Regions from separate parts of the Homo sapiens genome. Here region 1 is linked to region 2. The links come from fine-mapping of genetic effects on gene expression. Tissue or cell type: blood mononuclear cells. Region 2 holds a variant in brackets; the other region holds the start of a gene. All regions are shown on one strand. Distances are between the middles of the regions.

Region 1 (2,683 bases), 32 kb after region 2:
TGGTCTTGCAAAATGCTAACAGCTCTATTACCTATATAAAAAGCAAAAAAACAGGCTGGGTGTGGTGGCTCACAACTGTAATCCCAGCACTTTGGGAGGCTGAGTTGGGCAGATCATTTGAGGCCAGGAGTTCGAGACCAGCTTGGCCAACATGGCAAAACCCCATCTCTCCTAGAAATACAAAAATTAGCCAGGCACGGTGGCGGGCGCCTGTAATCCCAGCTACTCAGGAGGCTGAGGCGGGAGAATCGCCTGAACCTGGGAGACAGGATGTTCCAGTGAACCCAGATCGCACCACTGCACTCCAGCCTGGGTGACTGAGACCAGGTCTCAAAAAAAAAAAAAAAAGTGGGGGGAGGCATATAACTTATAGCTTGGTCAGTGGCAGAGCAATGACTGAACCCCAATCTGATTCCAAATTCTACACTCTCTCCATTACATTAGCTGTTAAAGCATGAACATTACATTAGTTAAAGCATGGACTACGAACTCACAGCTCTGTGAGGGGCACTTCTTAAATAGTGAGCGATAATGACACCTATGTCTGCAGCTTTCTGATCGAAAAGGAGCAAAGAAAGATAGAAGAACTAAAGGAACAGAGGGCGTACCAGTAGCCTTGGTTTTGTTGTGACCTCTATAAATCTGGGACCAGTTCTCCTTTCTAAGCCTTCGCGGTAAAATACTGATCACAAGCCTAGCCTCCAATAACTCCCAGGGCCAAAGTAAAGATCAATTCAACAGACGTTGATTAAACCCAAAGGCAATCTAGTCAAGTCATCAAATGCCCTGGGGACAGTTTCCCAGCTCCATCCACTTATTAGTTGTGGGACTCCTGGCAAATTACTTTTTCTATGAATACCTCAGTTTCTTCATGGGTAAAACGTGAAGCTATAGAAAGAACTCACCCCATAGGATTGTTGGGAAGATTAAATAGGCCTTTGGCTGAGCGCGGTGGCTCACGCCTGTAATCCCAGCACTTTGGGAGGCCGAAGCGGGCGGATCACCTGAGGTCGGGAGTTCGAGATCAGCCTGACCAACATGGAGAAACCCCGTCTCTACTAAAAACATAAAATTAGCCGGGTGTGGTGGCGCATGCCTGCAATCCCAGCTACTTGGGAGGCTGAGGCAGGAGAATCGCTTGAACCCGGGAGGCGGAGGTTGAGGTGAGCCGAGATCGCGCCATTGCACTCCAGCCTGGGCAACAAGCGCGAAACTCCGTCTCTAAATAAATAAATAAATGGGCCCTTATGTGTAATGCATTCAGTAGCACCTGACAATTTGTGATCATTCCGTACAGTAAGCCATGACTATTATCATCACGTGCTAGGCCCTGGGATCTAGAGATGAAAAAGGCAAGGCATAACATCTAACGAACGAGCTTACGGTGTCAACGAGGGGCCGGGAAAGTAACTCGGTGCACAGCGAGTGCAAAAACCGAGAAGCGAATGCAGCTGCGCCTGGAGAAGGCGGCTGAGAAGCGATACTTCAGCAGGGTCCTGAAGAATGGGAGCTCCAGAGTCGGGTGGCGGGTGGGACTGGGCTTTCGGATAGATTACGTGCAAATCCGCCAGGACACAGGGAGCGAGGGGCGGGGGGGCGGCAGAGCGCGGCGCCTCACCCTCCCAGCCTGGGATTGCGGCTACTGGACACGAGGGTCGGGAAGCTCTCCTTCGGCGCCGACTGGAGCTTAGCGTGCTGGCGGCAGCAAGAAGCTGAGGCAAGCGGGCCCCGGGCCCTAACGACGCGTCCCAGCCCCTCTCTGGGCCTCGGGTTCCTCCCGGGTAACAAGAGGCCGCTGCCCGAACGGGATTCCCTCAGGCGCCCTAGACGGGCGGGTCTCCGGGCCTCGGACGGTTAACCCGAGCACCTCCCACCTGCCCCTGAGGCCCCACCTCACCACGCTCGGCTCCCGCAGACGCCCGGCTAGTTGCTCCGCGATTGAGCTGCGGCAGCCGCTGCTAAGGCCCTGCGGGGGACGGGGGCGGAGCCCACCCCGAGGCAGAGGGCCAGGCCCCGCCCCCCCAAACTCCCGCCCTTTGGGAGGGGCCCGCCCCTCCAAGTCCTGCACCTATAGGCAGACTGAGCCGGCGCAGGGCCTCCCGCCATGTTGGGTATTGGCAGCCGACTTACTAGAGAGGCCCTGAAGGAAAGGGGGTATTATTTTAAGAATTATAAGATCCCTAGCCAGAAATGGGGACGGTCAGGGTCTCTGGATTCGCGAAAGGGACATTTCGGAAGCAGAAAAGAAAAATTGCCCTCAATCATTTCGCTTTTGGCTTCAGTGTTACATACAGCGCATGTGCAAGGTCACCTGGTTCTAGGTGCGCCTGCGCACAGCTCCACCTACAAACCAGACTACAATTACAACTGCCGAGAAACAAAGGGGCTCGCTGCCACTGGTTAGCGATAATACTGGCAGCGCGACCGGTTTCTGAGGGTTGTTCACCTTGCTGCTCAGACGCTCCGAGAAGCTTCAGGCAGCATAACACTTACAGGCGAGTTACTTACTCAACACTCGGTTTTGTCTGCATGTCTCTGCACAGAGTGTTACCTTTACCTGACTTAATCCGTCCCGGAGCTGCAGTTCTGCTTAAGCCTGACTTCTAGAGAACTTTTTCTTCCCAATAGGACCCATGCGTTATTCCTGTAGCATTTTGTGTATAAATTTTTTTTTTTTTTTTTG
Region 2 (2,683 bases):
CGAGGTAGGATGATCACTTGAGCCCAAGAGTTTGAGACCAGCCTAGGCAACATGGTGAAACCCCTTATCTACAAAAAATGCAAAAATTAGTCAGGTGTGGTGGTTCACTCCTGTGGTCCCAGCTACTTGGGAGGCTGAGGTAGGAGGATCACTTGAGCCCAGGAGGGCCTTGAGGGTGAGGCTGCCGTTAAGCCCTGATCACGCCACTGCACTCCAGCCTGGGCAACAGAGCAAGACCCTGTCTCAAAAGAAATAATAATAATAAAAAGAAAAAAAAGAGGTCTTCCTTTGTTCTTCCTTATAAAACCCGGCAATGTGTAATGTCAGTTACAGGACAGTCATGAATGACAAATCATTTTACCCTCTGGTTCAAAAAGCCAAAGACAGCGGGTATAGCTCAGTGGCAGAGTATGTGACTGCAAAAAGCCAAAGCCAACTGTAAAAATATGAAAAAGATGAATGTTAATAGCAGTTGCAAGTGTTAAAAAAACTGATCTATTTGCTCTATGTGAGTTAGAAGTGTGTTATAGCTACAAGAAGAGCTAATTCTGTGATGTGTAGGAAGTAACAGTCCAGCATTGCTGGTATGACCATGAACAGAATATTCTGCCCAGTTCAAAGTGCCACCTTTACACCACTGGGACATGAGTAAATTGTAACATGCCTAGAAGAAAGCAACCATGTTGGTGGGGTATTTCAAGCAAATCTAAGGCTCATTTGTTCCTGGTAATAGGTTTTGGTTCAACATGAATTTCCTAATAACTAGATCTATCTAAAATAAATGGGCAGCCAAGTGATGGAATACAATAGCAGCTAAGCAACCATTTGGAAGGGACATTACAGAGGTGGATAAAAAAGAAATGGTTAGGAGTTTGGGCCCTGAATCCCTTTTCTACCCCTTATTAGCCATGTAACCCTGACTTCTCTTTTTATATTTTATTTATTTAGAGATGGGGATCTTGCTATGTTGCCCAGGCTGGTCTCGAACTCCTGGCCTCTAGCGATCCTTTCGCCTTGGCCTCCCAAATTGTTGGAATTACAGGTGTGAGCCACCACGCCCAGCCCTGAGTGACTTCTCCATGCATTTATTCACCTTTATTGTGTGAATAAAGCATTCAGCATGGTGCTTGGCATGGGGAGGTGCTTAACAAGTGTCCAATATCATTACTCTTAAAGGGGAGACAGACAGTAGATGGAAGAATAAAGAATACAACTGCCAAGAGTGTTTCTTTTTCTTTTTTTTCTTTGAGACAGAGTCTCACTCTGTTGCCCAGGCTGGAGTGCAGTGGTGCGATCTTGGCTCACTGCAACCTCCACCTCCCTGGTTCAAGCAATTCCCCTGCCTCAACCTCCCAAGTAGCTGGGATTACAGGTGCATGCCACCACGCCTGGCTAATTTTTTTGTATTTTTAGTAGAGACGGGGTGTCACCAGGTTGGCCAGACTGGTCTCAAACTCCTGACCTTGGGCAATCCGCCCACCTCGGCCTCCCAAAGTGCTGGGATTACAGGTGTGAGCCACCACGCGC[G/A]GCCTCCCAAGAGTGCTTCTAATTGCCAGGATTCCAGGAGAAGGCAGTCACTGCTAAAACGAACAGGCTGTCGAGAGTTTTAAGAGGGCAGTTGACCTGCTCAATCATAGAGAAATAATAAAGTGGGACAATCAGAAGTCAGGAGGATTAGCTGAATGACAGAAAAGGAAAAGAGAGAAAAGGCCCTTTCATGACCCAGATATGGCCACTATAGTCAATCCTTTTAGGGAAACCAAGGCCACGTAGGTAGCTGGCTTATCATTCAGAAGTTTTATAGCATCTTTTATTTATGGAGTTTTCAGTACATGGTATACATCTGATTCCTGCTAGAATCAGTGTTCATTCAACAAATACTTTTAAGCACCGACTATAGACTAGGCACAGAATTCCAAAAATAAGCAAACTTCTGGTTATCATCTTGCCAATAAGCCTGCCTCATAATAACAATCAAATTACAAATACACATAAAGCACAAGTCAACTTCCATTTCCAGATACTTGATAAACAAGATCTCTGAACCCTCCAGCTACGAAATCGCAAAAAATGCTGGATAAAATATTAAATATGTATTTTAATGTATCACAGAACCAGCAGGAAAATAATAAAAATTCCACAGAAGCCAAAAGCAAAGCAAGACTTGTGGTGTAGGCCAGGTGTGGTAGTTCATACCTATAATCCCAGCAGTTTGGGAGGCTGTGGCAGGAGGATTGCTTGAAGCTAGGAGTTCAAGACCAGCCTAGGCAACAAAGTGAGATCACATCTCTACCAAAAAAAAAAAAAATTAGCCAGGCATGATGGTGCATGCCTGTAGTCCTAGCTAGTCTGGAGGCTGAGGCAGAAGGATTGCTTAAGCCCAGGAGCTTGAAGCTTCAGTGAGCTAGAGTTGTACAGTGCAGTTGTACAACTGCACTCCAGCCTGGGCAATAGCAAGACCTTGTCTTGAGGTCAGGAGTTCGAGACCAGCCTGGCTGATGTGGTGAAACCCAGTGTCTACTAAAAATGCAAAAATTAGCCAGGTGTGGTAGCATGCGCCTGTAATCCCAGCTACTTGGGAGGCTGAAGCACGAGAATTGCTTGAACCCAGGAGGCGGAGCTGAAACAGCACCACTGCCTGTGCAACAGAGCAAGACTGTGTCTCAAAAAAAAAAAAAAAAAA

Evidence for each region. PIP is the estimated chance that this variant, and not a neighbour inherited with it, causes the effect.
Region 1: it holds the start of CEP250, and the variant in region 2 is fine-mapped to the expression of CEP250 in blood mononuclear cells (TOPMed, PIP 0.95).

The regions. Positions count from the first base shown.
Region 1 is chr20:35,454,452-35,457,134 of GRCh38, reverse strand. CEP250 (centrosomal protein 250) reads right to left here and starts at 1,537. Exons shown (of 35, transcript NM_007186.6): 1 at 1,384-1,537. It also overlaps a transcript of GDF5 not described here. RefSeq lists a silencer at 1,743-2,122 and enhancers at 2,143-2,292, 2,553-2,602.
Region 2 is chr20:35,486,034-35,488,716 of GRCh38, reverse strand. All of the region lies in intron 20 of CEP250 (centrosomal protein 250), which reads right to left. The region is part of intron 1 of CEP250-AS1 (CEP250 antisense RNA 1); the gene reads left to right. Among named protein-coding and RNA genes, the nearest start is that of CEP250-AS1, 3.6 kb to the left of the region's middle. The variant G/A (reference allele first, on the strand shown) is at 1,528.